Homo sapiens: one gene and its partner. Each later gene encodes a partner of the first gene's protein in a complex. Links are inferred from orthologs where the notes say so. Each region holds a gene or a part of one and is shown in the gene's direction. Other genes may lie near its edges.

Region 1 (7,853 bases):
GCTCATGCCTGTAACCCCAGTGCTTTGGAAGGCTGAGGCGGGCGGATCACGAGGTCAGGAGTTTGAGACCAGCCTGGCTAACATGGTGAAACCCTGTCTCTACTAAAAATACAAAAAATTAGCCGGGCGTGGTGGCAGGCGCCTGTAATCCCAGCTACTTGGGAGGCTGAGGCAGGAGAATCACTTGAACCCGGGAGGTGAAGGTTGCAGCGAGCCGAGATGGCGCCACTGCACTCCATCTTGGCAACATAGCAAGACCCTGTCTCAAAAAAAAAAAAAAAAAAAAAAAAGAAGCCGAGAAAAGGAAGCCCCCAAAGATGGGAAGAACCACCAGAAAGAAGAGAGAAAGGAGGTGGAGACAGGCACAGGCCTGTAATCCCAGCACTTTGGGAGGCCAGGAGTTCAAGTTCAAGAAAGGAGGCAGAAGGGACAGTGTTGGGGAAGGAAGAGCAGTGGTCAATTTTTAGATTTTTCGTTAAGGCGGAAGAGACATCAGGAAGCTGATATGCTGGAGGTACGCCATTTCCTAAGAGGAAAGACCAGGAACAAGAGGAGAGGCTCAATATGGAGTATCCACAGCGCCCTGGCCTGGCCCCGATGCTTCTCTGAAGCGGCAATCTCCAGAGAAGTCAGAAGGCAGACAGAAAGAGTCCACTGCCAAAACAGACTTCCCCTCTCCCTGCCACCTGGCCTCCTGCAGGCTGCTTCAAAGACCAAAGGCATTTATCTCAGTCCCAGCTGAAGCAAGAGTGGGAGGAGGGGAAAGAGTTCACTTTCCCATGCTCTACATGAACCTAAAAGGAGTCAGCTTGGCTGGCTGAACACACGCTGCCTTGGCTTACAGAGCCCCAGGCTCATACATGCTGGAGACAGCCTGACTGAGCAAAATGCTATGCCTCCCCCTCAGCACACACATACACACAGAGCCAGACCTTCTCTGACATCTCTGTTCACCTTAACACAACATTGCAAAGTCCTCTGCTTCTCAGAATGGAGGGACTATCATCAAGGGGTAATCTAAACATTTGCTAATTATGCAAGAGCCTTTGCCTTCTTAATTGAAGTCAGGATAGAAACTGCAGAGTCCCTGTCTTAAATAAAACATAAAGCCAAAACAAAAACAAAACAAAAAAAACACTAAACGATCTGTCTGGAACATTTCCCCCCACACACCCACTGTCCCCCAATGGGCACTCTTCCCCGACTCCTTCAGGACAAACTCAAATCCTTCTGTGATATATACTCCTACAGCATCCTGTCCTTTGCAGCATGCTGGGCGTTTGTGATTGTCACCTTCTTGTCATTGACTGTGATTTGTGTAAAGTCTGCCTCCCCTGACAGACTGTAAGGCTCACAAGCATCGGGATCATGTCTGTGATGTTTACTGCTACATGTTTCACATGCCCTCGAAGAATATTTACTGCTTACCTGAAATGCATTCCAACTTCTTCTTGGGTCTCTTGGCATCAAGGATGTCACCTCTTTTAAGTCAAACTTAGAACCTGCCTAGGTTACAGAATTAAGAGCACGCTTTCTTTCATGAAGTTGCAAAACTGTCTACCTTGCCTGTACTAAGTCATACTGGTCTCTAAATTTTCTTCTACAGTTACTGTCCCTCCTCCCACACAAGCCACATCTAGTCTTCCCTAAAAAGGTCATCATCATGTCCAGGGTAGCCCCACTTCTGTATGGTCCCACTACTAGGAACAAAGTAGGAGTAAAAATCAGACCAGTGATTTAATGATATCTCCCTCCTAGGATTAGAGAATGTCACAGCTTGAGGCCGGGCGCAGTGGCTCACGCCTGTAATCCCAGCAATTTAGGAGGCCGAGGCGGACGGATCACGAGGTCAGATCGAGACCATCCTGGCTAACCCTGTGAAACTCTGTCTCTACTAAAAATACAAAAAATTAGCCAGGCGTGGTGGCACGCACCTGTAATCCTAGCTACTCAGGAAGCTGAGGAAGGAGGATCGCTTGAACCCGGGAGGCGGAGGTTGTAGTGAGCCAAGATCGCACCACTGCACTCCAGTCTGGGTGACAGAGCGAGACTCCGTCTCCACAAAAAAAAAAAAAAAAAAAAAAGAGAGAGAGAATGTCATAGCCTGAAGACATGTGATCTAAGATCTCAGTTTACAGAAGAGGAAACTGAAGCCTAGAAAGGTGCACATGGATTGGGCCACCACAGTGGGCATTTTTGATACACTTGGCCCTGCACTAAGCGCTTGCAGCAGATATAAACACGAACAATCAACAGATCCAGTCCTCAAAGATTGGACAACAGCTAAGGCCTTACTTCCCCAAGGTCCTCTATCCACTATAGCCTACTTGCCAACTCCGAGGCCTGGCACGGTGGCTCACACCTGTAATCCCAACACTTTGAGAGCCCAAAGCAGAGAGATCACCTGAGGTTGAGAGTTCAAGACCAGCCTGACCAACATGGAGAAACCCCCGTCTCTACTAAAAATAAAAAATTAGCCAGGCGTGGTGGTGCATACCTGTAATCCCAGCTACTTGGGAGGCTAAGGCAGGAGAATCGTTTGAACCCGAGAGGTGGAGGTTGTGATGAGCCGAGATCGCACCGTTGCACTCCAGCCTGGGCAATAAGAGTGAAACTCCATCTCAAAAAAAAAAAAAAAAAAAAAAAGGAAAGAAAGAGAGGGAAACAAAGAGAAAAAAAAAGTAATAGACTACTGCCACCTCTGACGTAATGCTCATCCTTCCCAGAAAGAGCAGATTTTCTCTGGCAAATGGTATCAGAGATCAGAAAACAAGCTTCCAAATTCCTTCTGAGGTATCCTCTTACAAGCAGAAGTGCACAAGATTACTGTTTGTAGCCCCAGGTAGGGAGAAAAACGAAACATCATCGCTGGTACTCACATCAGAGGAAGATCAAGGTAGCCAAAGACCCCAGAAGGTCAGACACAAAGACCACTGAGACAGGCAAGGATTAAGGTCAAGGCTGCCTAGAGCAAGCTGGAAAATGAGGGTAATAATTACAAGAGCAGGCCCAGGTATAGGCTTATGGGTACTCGTCTGACTCCAAGGCAAGTGGGCTGTTAGGCACCAGACAACTTAGAAAGAGCAACCTCCCTTGCCTTTTTCACAAAAGGGCCAACAGTCTGGAGATGAGTAGATTATAGGGGTTTGTGCTCCTGTATCACCTCCATTCATCACCTCCTTAGTCAAGGCTCTGAACTGCTTTTTCTCTCCAAGGATCTGAAGCAGGTATGCAAGCAGCAGATGTTGATTTTTGTTTTCATTTTTTTTTTTTTTTTTGAGGCAGGGTCTTGCTCTTTCACCCAGGCTGGAGTACAGTGATGTGATAATAGCTCCTGGGCTCAAGCAATCCTCCAGCCTCAACCTCCCGAGTAGCTAGGACTACAAGTGCGCCACGGAACCTGGCTAATTAAAAAAAATTTTTTTTTGTAGAGGCAGGGTCCTACTGTGTTGCCCGGGCTGGTCTCCAACTCCTGGGCTCAAGCCTTCCTCCCCTTCCACCTCTCAAAGTGCTGGGATTATAGGCATGAGCCACTGCGCCTGGCCGCAATTACCAATTTCTAGGGGTTGTGAAAATGAAATTTGGTATGAAATGTATTTCATTAGGAAGGATGTAATTTCCATACGGGCTGATTTTGTCCACTGCTGTGTCTCCAGCGTCTAGAACAGGGCCTAGCACGTTTGTGTAAACTCTTCTTATAGTCCTCTGCATCGGGAAAGGGATGGGAGGTAGCACTTCCCAACCCACCCCAGTGTCCCACTTGCTCTTCCTTGGCTAAAAATGCAGGCTCATTTTTGCCTCCTCCAGGACTACAGATGGTACGCGGTCCTGTCCAAAGCAGCTTAGCAAAACCGGCCAGAGGCTGGGCACAGTGGCTCACCACTTTGGAACACCTGTAGTCTCAGCACTTTGGGAGGCCTAGGCGGGCGGATGGCTTGACCCCAGGAGTTCGAGCCCAGCCTGGGCAACATGGCGAAACTCCGTCTCTACAAAAACAAAATACAAAAAATTATCCAGGCGTGGTGGCGCCCGCCTGCAATCCCAGCTACTCGAGAGTCTGAGGCGGGAGAATCGCTTAAGCCTGTGAGGCAAAGGCTGCAGTGAGCCGAGATCGCGCCACCGCACTCCGGCCCGGGCGACAGAGCGACACCCTGTGTCAAAACAAAAACCGGGCCGATCCCCAAAACGCCTTTCACCTGTGCTTTCAGCTCACCTCAGGGCTCAGGGCCAGCCCCCAGGCTGCTTCTTGCCCTCCGACAGACGGCCTCCCCCCATCGGTACTCCCCCATCCCGGACAGCTCGTAACGCCCCAGCCGCTCGGCCTGGCACTCCTAGGCAATGGGGGTCAGAGCAGAGGGGCCCATCTGCAGCCCCAGGGCGCACTTCGCGCCACGTGGCTTCTGCAGGTGGAAGTCCAGCCCGCGCTGCAGCCCCGCCTGGGCAGTCAGGACAGCAATCTCAGCACCCACCCGAGATGTGGGGATTGGAGGTAGACAGGGCGAGCGCCATTGTCCCAAGGCCCCTTACCTGGTCCCGGGACAAATGCCACCAGTTACAGCCCGCCTTGAAAACTGGCCCGGGTGAGAGGAGGACCTGGGCTGGGGAACTGCCCCCACGCCCGCCCCACGCCCCTCCTTTTCGACCAATCCCAGGCCGGGAGGCTCCCGCCAGCCACGTGGGCAGGCTTTCTCCACTCCCTGGTCCAGGCGAGCCGGCGGCGGCCTCTGCAGCTCCCGTAGCCCGCCCACTGCGTGGGCGGGCGCCTTAGCGCACTTGCGCACTCTGGGGAAAGCGGAGCTGCACCCCGCCCCGTATTGCTGCTCAGCTCCTCAGCTGTGCGTGCGAGGGACGTCGGGGGCGGCGCCGCAGCAGTTGCCCCTGGTAACGGGGGAGGCAGCAGGAGGAGGAGGAGGAGGAGGGACTCGGCGGGAGGATGGTGAGTGTGGGGGCCTGGGCCCCCTTGGAGCCGGCCGGTTATCCCCCTCCCGTCCCCAGGCCCAGGGCGGAGCACTGCGCTTAAAGCCAAGGAGGGAATGGGACGTCGCTCAGCCTGCTATCTGGGTTGTGGACTGATTTCGGGGGTCGGCGGGGAGACCCGAGGGTGGGCCCTGGAGGGAGGCCTGGGCCTGGAGAGGAAGGCGGGGCTTGCAGCGGGTCCGAGGCTTGGGGAAGGGGCTGGCAGAGTGCGCGGCTGGCCGGGTGCGGAGCCCGGGCTCCATCATTACTCTGGGGACAGGGGTGAGGGCGGATCCCAGGAACTGCGGAGAGCAGCTTTCGCTAGCAGGCTTAGACTTCCCGGGCAATCGGTCTCGCGGCTTTGCAGTAAAGTGGGGTTCGTCTGGAGCCCGGCCAGAAGCGGAGAGAAGGCCGGCCCCATTGGCTCTGAGGTCGCCCTGGCGGTAGCAGGGGAGATGGTAGCCTAGCTCTCCTCCTTCTCGCGCTGTGCGGGCCCCTGGGGGGTAGGGAAGTAAGTCCCACGACACAAAGGGGTGCCGCTTGGAAGGGATGCCTGGTGGATTTTACGCCGTCTTGGTGTCTGCGTGGCGGGTGCGCTTCCTCAGTCCCGAATTATTTAGTTATTTGCTGAGAGTTTTGCAGGATCTGATTGTTGGTGATGACCGATTTTTCATTCAATACATAATCCATGTTGATGAAGACATATTAGCTGCTCCGTCTCTAGAATTTCCTTCGAAACCTTTTGCAGTCTCCTCTTGCGTGTGACCATACCAGGACCAAAAGATCTTAATCCTAGCTTGAGTTCTCCAAACTGAAAAGAACGAGAAGTTAAAAATGGAGATCGAACTTCAATCCGGGGCAAGGCTTTTCTCTGTCAGTCCCAATTAAAGCTTTCCCAAATTCTAAATTATGGTTGTGACAGATCTGACCGTTGACACTCTGTTTCTTGTTAATGTCTGTACAGTTAGTTGGAGGGAGTTAAAATGGAATTGAGTAATTTTAGAGCTATCAAAGAAAAATTGATTTTGAACACTTAAAGCAGGTTAGTTGGCTGCAAAGAGCCTGTCATCAAACTTATAGTCACTGCTCCAACTCTCTTCCTAGTTCCTTTCTTGACTTTTAGAAATGTTGAGCCATTTCTGTTGATTTAAGAAGTAAAAAAAAAAACAAAAAAACTAGATGCCCAGGAAAAAAAAAAATAGATGTATGTTTGGTCAGATTATCCAGTGAGTAGATTTAGAAAGGAAAAAAAAAACTCAATTGATTTTACATTGTCAGATTGTTAAAGAAGTAGGGTTATTTGATCTGAAGTTGCCAATCACATTTCACACTTGCTACACTTGCAGTTTTTTTTTAACCTCAGGCTAAACAGATTTTTACAACTGTTTCTTTTTCTTAATCATTTATACGTGAGCTGTCCTTTTAAAGTTAAAGTTTTTCTCAACAAATGAGTACAAACATAAATATTTACCCAGAAAATAGCTAGAATTGGAATGAAAAGGGCATGCCGAACCAACAGAGATTGAGATTCATCATTATGGATGAGAAGTGCATGAGAGTTGGCTAACTTTTCCCAGTTTGTTGATCAATTAAGTGTACTGTGTAATCCATGATTGTTTAATTTATAATTACAGGCCACAGTAAATTAACCACTGCCCATGTTTCCAGGTGCAAATTGGCACAGTATACAACAAATTTACAGTGTATATACAACACTGTTGTATACAACTGTTGTGTTCAATGATGAAAACAGATTTTGTTTTTCTTTTTTCCTTTTTCCTAAGATGAACAATAAGAAATTAAGACAAATTATTCCGGATTCTTTATCTGGTTTCCCAAAAACATTTTTTTTCTATCTCCACAAGCGTGAGCTGTTCTTAAAACTTGAAGTGAAACACTGAATTTAGTCAGTCGTGTGACTTAAGTGTATCCCATCTGGTATCCCATGAGCCCCCATGGTTAACTGTACAACTGAAGCGTGAACCCCAAGGTTTTTTTGGTTTTTGTTTTAAACTTCAGCTGTGACAAATACATATTTTTTTTCAAATTTGGGTAACTGTGGCAAAAACCCAAATATGGGTTTCTCTGAACATTTAGAGTCAGCTATTTTACCCCTGCTTTACAGTGCCAGGTTCTTGATGAATTACTAAAATACTAAAATGACAGTAATTTTAGCACGTAACTAACCACTTATATTTAACATATGATTCCTTCATTCAGTAATTATTTATGGAGCACTTTCTACATATATGGAGCTTGTGGTCGTTCTCAAGCATGTTCAACATTTGAAGATTGTTCCCAACAGTTACTTATGTTTTCTGGTTAGAAAATGGCCCGTGAAAAATTATTTTAAAAAAATAAACAAAACACGAGGGTAGTCTTTTCAGTGGCTGTTATGTGTCATGCTTTACATACATGACCTCATTTCATCCTCATAGCATCATCTCTTGAGATGTAAGTATTGTTCCTGTTTTCTTCTTTTTTTTTTCTTTTTTTGAGACGGAGTCTTGCTCTGTCACCCAGACTGGAGTGCAGTGGCGCGATCTCCGTTCACTGCAAGCTCCGCCTCCCGGGTTCACGCCATTCTCCTGCCTTAGCCTCCGCAGCAGATGGGACTATGGGCGCCCGCCACCACGCCCGGCTAATTTTGTGTGTGTGTGTTTTTAGTAGAGACGGGGTTTCACCATGTTAGCCAGGATGGTCTGTATCTCCTGACCTCGTGATCCGCCCGCCTCGGCCTCCCAAAGTGCCGGGATTACAGGCGTGAGCCACCGCGCCCGGCCTGTTCCTATTTTCTAGCTGAAACTGTGTGCAGTGTTATGTATATACATATATATATATAAAAACACACACACACATACATATATATACATATATATATACAGATACATATACAT
Region 2 (7,240 bases), on another chromosome or scaffold:
TATTTGGAGATAAGGTTTTTAAAGAGGTAATTAAGTTAAAATGAGGTTATTAGGGGGCCTTAATCCAATATGACTGATATGCTTATAAGAAACGGAGATTAGTACATAGGCTGTATAGGGGTAAGACCAGGTATAGACACAGGGAGAAGACAGCCATCTGCAAGCCAAGACGAGAAGCCTCAAAGGAAACCAACCCTGCCAATAACTTGATCAGAGACATAGACTTCAGAACTTTCAGAAAATAAATGTCTGCCGCTCAAGCCACCCAGTCTGTGGTAATTTGTTATAGCAGTCCTAGCAAACTAATACACCATTTAAAAGAGGGAGAAAATCTTAATATCATCTTTATTTAGCTCACAAGTTTGCTGTAAGTCAAATAGATGTAATCTCTTTGTAAACTGTAAAGTACTATATAAATGTGAATAATTGTTATTCACAAGGTCCTTGAAAATGCAGTCATGTTGTTACGATTTGAATTTTATATTCCTTTAGTAGGGCAGACACTCAGTATCAGTACAGGGGATGGGGAGAAGCAAGAGATTTCCTAGGGCTGCAGCAAAAAACACAAATGATTTGTCATTGAAAGAAGAGGCAAAATAAAATGAATAGTTCCTTGCATTCATGCTGCAAATTTTTAAGCAAACCGATACCTAAACTACATACAATAACAATATCTAATATGTATTAAGCATTTACTAAGTACCTAGCATAATCCCAAGTACTTTTAATATGTGTTCTCAGCCAGGCGCGGTGGCTCACGCCTGTAATCCTAGCCTTTATCAACCCCATGGTAAAAGTGCTTGGTGTGTGTATGTGTGTCATGTACTGTGTATATATATTTATTTATGTGTGTGCATCTATTTTAGTTTTGTTACATGTATCTTTTTTTTTTTTTTTTGGAGACAGGGTCTCACTCTGTTGCCCAGGGTGGAGTACAGAGGTGCAATATCGGCTCACTGCAACCTCTGTCTCCAGGTTCAAGCGATTTTCCTGCCTCAGCCTCCCAATTAGCTGAGTACAGGCGCCCATCACCACGCCAAGCTAATTTTTAGTAGAGACGAGGTTTTGCCATGTTGGGCAGGCTAGTCTCAAACTCCTGACCTCAAGTGATCCACTCACCTTGGCCTCTCAAAGTGCTGGGATTACAGGCATGAGCCACCGCACCCGGCCTGTTATACATATCTTTAACATTAAAATTTGTTCCTATGTGGTAAGAACAGTAAAAGGAGTAATAAAATTGCCAAAATAAGTTGTGATTTTCCAAGAGATGACTGTGCTTTGCATTACTGTGAAACACTGAAAACACTGCTAAATGACCTATGCGTAACACACACCCATGCTATCTTCTTACTCTTGCCCCAGTACATCCATATGCATTGCTCTAACAGTGTGCAAGCTGTTCTTCTGAGTTTATTTTATGATAAGCGTATTGAATACATTATCTCAAATCTGTGTAAGCATCCTGCTTATAAGAATCTCAAGCAATGAATAAAAAGAAAAGCCTTATGTTTTAAGGAGAAAATGAAATAATAAAATATTTTGAAACAAATGAGAGAACTTGCAGGCCTGAAGGAATCCACATTGCCCATTTAGATTTAGAGATTTAGAAACAAGGCTAAGAAAATAAAAGAAAGGAAAACTCTTACATCATAGTTATCTGCTTCCAGTGGAATTGAGAAGCATTTGGAAGAGACTGAAGACAAAGAAAGACTCTAATGCTGAACAATGAGTGTGGATGAGGCCGGGCGTGGTGGCTCATGCCTGTAATCCCAGCGCTTTGGGAGGCCGAGGTAGGCAGATCACTTGAGGTCAGGAGTTTGAGACCAGCCTAGCCCGGCCAACATAGTGAAACCCTGCCCGTACTAAAAATACAAAAATTAGCCAGGCTTGGTGGCGGGTGCCTGTAATCCCAGCTCCTTGGAAGGCTGAGGCAGGAGAATCGCTTGAACCCGGGAGGTGGAGGTTGCAGTGAGCGAAGATGTCACCACTGCACTCCAGCGTGGGTGACAGAGCGAGACTCTGTCTCGAGAAAAAAAAAGGGCTGTGGGGGGGGCTATCATTTTAACCTAGTAGATTGGCAAAGACTATTTTTTAAAAATATTTAAAATAGGGAGCCCGAGGCGGGCAGATCACGAGCTCAGGAGATCGAGACCATCCTGGCTACTAACATGGTGAAACCCCGTCTGTACCGAAAATACAAAAAATTACCCGGGCGTGGTGGCGGGCGCCTGTGGTCCCGCCTACTCGGGAGGCTGAGGCAGGAGAATGGTGCGAACCCGGGAGGCGGAGCTTGCAGTGACCCGAGATTGCGCCACTGCACTCCAGCCTGGGCGACAGAGCGAGACTCCGTCTCAAAAAAAAAAATAATAATAATAATTAAAATAATTAGTTCAGTAATTTTCCCATGAGAATTTGTTCGAGGGAAATAATGAGACTAGGGTTCAAAAACATATGTGCAAGTATATTCATTACACAATTGTTTACGGGTTTAAAAAATTCAAGTAATTTAATGTAGCAGTTGAGGTTTGGTCAAATTAACCAAGATATATATTCTTTCATTTAGCAATTCTGCTGGAATCTATCCCTTGGAATAGTAAATAAAACCAACAGTTCTCAGGATGCAACATTTATAACAGCAGTTTGTGGAAGCAAAAAATGGCAAATCCACAGCACGGAGGAGGAAAAAGAAAAAAATTGCACATGGCCAGGCACGGTGCCTCACGCCTGTAATCCTAACTCTTTGGGAGGCCGAGGCAGGCGGAACACCTGAGGTCAGGAGTTCGAGGCCAGCCTGGCCAACATGGCGAAACCCTGTCCCTACTAAAACTACAAAAATTAGCTGGGTGTGGTGGCACATGCCTGTAATCCCAGCTACTCTGGAGGCTGAGGCACAGGAGAATCTCTTGAACCCAGAAGGCTAAGGTTGCAGTGAGCTGAGGTCACGCCACTGCACTCCAGCCTGGGCGACAGAGCGAGACTCTGTCTAAAAAAAAAAAAAAAAAAAAGGCACATAATGATCATCTTCATGCATTCAGGTAAGATACTGTGTGCACATTCACAAAATAAAAATAGACTAAAGGATGGTTTATGGAATACTATGCAGTTGCAAAGAAAGCACAAATTTATATTTTTAAAAGATAAAGATATAAGAAAAAAATTCATAACTGTACATATAATCCTATTTATGTAAAAAATATATATATATATATGGTTGTCTGAAGATATTTTGGGACTCCAAACACCTTCACAATGACCACTGAAGACCCCATTCCACAATGGACTCCACCTAAATGCTGAGTTGGAGTTATAATAAGATTTGGTTACCAAGGCATTTATTTAAGTGAGTATTAACTTTGCTCTTGCCCTTGAAAAGCTCCTAATTCTAGTTATCTTTATCCAAGCGTAAGAGATTAAAGACCCGCCTGAAGATACAGATGCAAACTGACCGTAAGACAATCAGCGAGTCTCACACAGCTCGGCTTTGTATTTTCAGACAACCCTTTAATTACAAACGCCTCTGGGCCAATGGTCTGAAAATGGTTGGGACTGAGGTGCTGGGGATACAATGATGAACTGCAGCCGCTGAAGCCCTGTCAGGTGGAGACCCGGTTACCTCAGACCCTCACTGAGCCTTTTCTTTTTTCTTTTCTTTCTTCCTGTTTTTCTTTTGAGACGCAGTCTCCCAGGCTGCAGTGCAGTGGCTCACTGCAACCTCGGCTTCCCGGGTTCAAGCGATTCTCCTGCCTCAGCCTCCCGAGTACCTGGGATTACAGGCGGCGCCACCACGCCAGGCTAATTTTTGTATTTTTGGTAGAGACGAGGTTTCACCATGTTGGCCAAGCTGGTCTCGACCTCCTGACCTCAGGTGATCCGCAAGCCTCGGCCTCCCAAAGTGCTGGAATTACAGGCGTGAGCCACCGCGCCCGTCTACTGCGCGTTTTCTAAACCTTGGCTCCTACGCATTTATCAGAAGAGAGAGCGCAATCTGTCTATGACTTCCAGCCAATAGCTACACTTCTTTTCTCAGCCCTCGTCCACTGTTCTTTTTTAACCAATCAGAAACGTTTTTCAAACGTTTGCCCTCCCCGCTAAGTGCGCAGGCTCCTGGAAAGTTGTCTTCACTTCCGGGCCGCGGTCTAGGGCGGCTACGTGTGTTGCCATAGCGACCATTTTGCATTAACTGGTTGGTAGCTTCTATCCTGGGGGCTGAGCGACTGCGGGCCAGCTCTTCCCCTACTCCCTCTCGGCTCCTTGTGGCCCAAAGGCCTAACCGGGGTCCGGCGGTCTGGCCTAGGGATCTTCCCCGTTGCCCCTTTGGGGCGGGATGGCTGCGGAAGAAGAAGACGAGGTGGAGTGGGTAGTGGAGAGCATCGCGGGGTTCCTGCGAGGCCCAGACTGGTCCATCCCCATCTTGGACTTTGTGGAACAGAAATGTGAAGGTAAAAACCAGAGCCCGAACCGACAATCCTTTTCTCCTCTCTCACACCAGCGGCGGGCAGGGGGTTGGTAACCACAAGCCATCTCTCGTCTCCCCGACCCCCTGTCTCCACCCCTGTCGCAAGGTCTCGTTCCCCTCACCACCTTCTCCACCCGCGTCATCAGGTTTAGAGCTGGTTGTGTGGGAGGAATTCCTTTCACCCTGCCAATGTGTTCCTTCGCAGACCTGAAAACGGGGACCGAGACTCCCCTTCTCTGGGGCCGAAGCGCACGTCCGAAGAACATTAGACTTGAATCGTAAATTCGGTCTCTCACCCTGTCCCGAACGTTTCTGCCCTCGGCAGGTGGACTGTTTGGCTGGGCTTCTTCAACAGCTTTGCCAGACTTGAGAGGAGAAGCGTCGGTTTACCTGAGTTCCTTATGATCCCTAGCATTTCGCCCGGTGTAGTCAGCTTAGGAAATGAGAAATGATTTCACTCCAAACCAACAGTTAACTGCAAAGGAGGGCATGTGATAACTCCAGGAAGCCCAGAGCCGGTGATTTTGGTGGCCTGTGTTCCCCTTGGTGAGCTCTCTACTCTTCGCTATACCAAAAATTGGCGAGGTGGGGCAGGACCATTCTTGGAACAAATGAGGCGTATAGATATGGCATAATATTCCCCGTGAAGGACAGGCATCTCCGGGTTCTGAGCAGTTCTTCAGGCTTGGAGTTCTGCATTCAGTTCGTGGAGACTATTTGCAGCCCATTCGCAGAAAAGGAACCAGAAACCACGTCATATAAATGAGTGCCCAAGCGTTATTGTGGTTGTTTAATCGGGCAAGACTTTGAGGGTAGTAGTATTCATCAATTATTTGAACATCTGCTTTGTGTTGTAAGGTTGAGTAGAATAGAGCTAGGGTCAGTTGGTACAAGCTACAGGGAAACAAATTTCAGTGAAGGAAGTGTTTCATGATAGAATGTATCCAAGATGAGTTAGCCAGCCTCAGAAGGTAATGAGCTTCCCGGCTCCAGCAGTGTTTGAATGGATCTGATAGCGACTTAATAGGGTTAGAGGGATTCAGCTATTCAGCTATCAAATGGTCGGTTATCCTGGATGACCTTTTAAGACTTCTTTAAATTCCAAGATATCATGAATCTGGTAAAGATGAAATTCAGTTTGACCACTGAATCTTTTCATTACATTTTCATTGCTATAATCAATATTCAAATCGTAGTTATTAAAGTGTTATTTTTACAGGTAATTTTTTAACAATGTTCAAAAACAAAATAACTTGTATTTGTACTCCTTTTTTTTTTTTTTTTTTGGGAGACAGAGTGTCGCTCTGTTGCCCAGGCTGGAGTGCAGTGGCGTGATCTTGGCTCACTGCATTGTTTTATACATATGATCATTCAGTAAACACTTGTTTTGATTTTATTTAACTTCATTATTTATCTGTGGTAACAAAAATTGCCTGGTCACTTTCAGTAACATTTACATCAGCAAAATTCCAGTACAATAAAATAATATGGAACCTATTGTAAAAGGATTTAACCATTAACAATAATATTACATTAAAAGTTATGAAGAAATTATTGCCTCATATTGATTGAAATGTGTTTTTGTCTTAAATATGAGGTAGTATTCATTTTAAATATTTTCTCAAGTAGGCAAAAAAGCTTGTTTACAATTAATAGTATATATGTGTGTGTGTGTGTGTGTGTGTGTGTATATTTTTTTTTCTTTTTTTTTTTTGAGATGGAGTCTCACTCTGCCGCCCAGGCTGGAGTGCAGTGGTGCAATCTTGGCTCACTGCAACCTCCGCCTCCTGGGTTCAAGCAATTCTCTTGCCTCAGCCTCCCGAGTAGCTGGGTCTACAGGCGCGCACAACCACGCCTGGCTGATTTTTGTATTTTTAGTAGAGATGGGATTTCACCACATCAGCCAGGCTGGTCTCGAACTCCTGATCGTAGGTGATCCACCCACCTTGGCCTCCGAAAGTGCTGGGATTACAGGCATGAGCCACAGTGCTCGGCCAATAGTATATATTTTTAGATATATTCATTTATATATTTTTAAAAGATAAACCCTAAGAATTCAAAGCTGAAGAGCTAGGTTGACAGTTCTATTTGGAAGGAGTGGATTTTTAAATTTGCATTAATAAAATGATTTGGTTTTTACACTATGTAATATTTTCTTTTAAATTTAGTTTTTGATGATGAAGAAGAAAGCAAATTGACCTATACAGAGATTCATCAGGAATACAAAGAACTAGTGAGTATTTTTTTTCACTGATTTTTAAAAGTAATTAGGCTAATACTACTTATAGCTTTTCTAAATGAAGAAAAATATTTTTACATTAAAAATCCTTAATTTTACAAAAATCCAATCTACCTTAACAATAGTGCCAGTTATATCTGTCTCCACAGGTGCTCTGAATATCTCATTTGGATGACTTATCTCCTCTACTCTAAGGAATGGTTTTACAACTCTTTATGGGTTCTTGCATGTATTCTTTATATCTTATTCTTATTTTGTTGACGCATCCAGGGACATATTAATTATTCACTTCGTCATGGTTGTCATGTGATTTTTTTATTTTTTATTTTTGAGACAGGGTCTTGCTCTGTCACCCAGGCTGGAGTGCAGTGGCACTATCACAGCCTATTGCAGCCTCAACCTCCCCAGGCTCAAGCGATCCTCCCATCTCAGCCACCTGAGTAGCTGGGACTACAGGTGTGCACCACCATGCCCTGCTAATTTTTTTGTATTTTGTAGAGATGGCGTTTCTCTGTGTTTCCCAGGCTGGTGTGGAACTCCAGAGC

The links. Proteins that work in one complex are often made in the same cells at the same time.
Region 2: the proteins of ARL3 (region 1) and CFAP36 are in contact, whole or in part, in a crystal structure (PDB 4ZI3), measured with the Mus musculus proteins. The link is inferred for Homo sapiens from one-to-one orthologs. Residues at the interface, in NP_062692.1 of Mus musculus: Leu3, Leu4, Ile6, Leu7, Arg8, Lys9, Leu10, Lys11, Ser12, Arg19, Lys35, Glu40, Pro47, Thr48, Gln49, Gly50, Phe51, Asn52, Ile53, Lys54, Trp66, Ile74, Tyr77, Ser80, Tyr81; in NP_080016.1 of Mus musculus: Glu44, Glu45, Ser46, Lys47, Leu48, Thr51, Glu52, Lys58, Val61, Glu62, Leu65, Glu76, Phe79, Gln80, Cys83, Thr84, Ala88, Lys89, Leu97, Val100, Leu101, Ala103, Glu104, Asp105, Phe106, Thr107, Ile108.

Annotation. Positions count from the first base shown.
Region 1 is NC_000010.11:102,711,356-102,719,208, reverse strand, and holds the start of ARL3 (ADP-ribosylation factor-like protein 3), read left to right. Parts: upstream 1-4,811; 5' UTR 4,812-4,933; coding exon 4,934-4,936; intron 4,937-5,047; exon of another isoform or gene 5,048-5,411; coding exon of another isoform or gene 5,412-5,414; intron 5,415-7,853. UniProt on the Homo sapiens protein: Small GTP-binding protein which cycles between an inactive GDP-bound and an active GTP-bound form, and the rate of cycling is regulated by guanine nucleotide exchange factors (GEF) and GTPase-activating proteins (GAP).
Region 2 is NC_000002.12:55,515,478-55,522,717, forward strand, and holds the start of CFAP36 (cilia- and flagella-associated protein 36), read left to right. Parts: upstream 1-4,240; 5' UTR 4,241-4,324; coding exon 4,325-4,439; intron 4,440-4,927; coding exon of another isoform or gene 4,928-5,002; intron 5,003-6,624; coding exon 6,625-6,689; intron 6,690-7,240. UniProt on the Homo sapiens protein: May act as an effector for ARL3.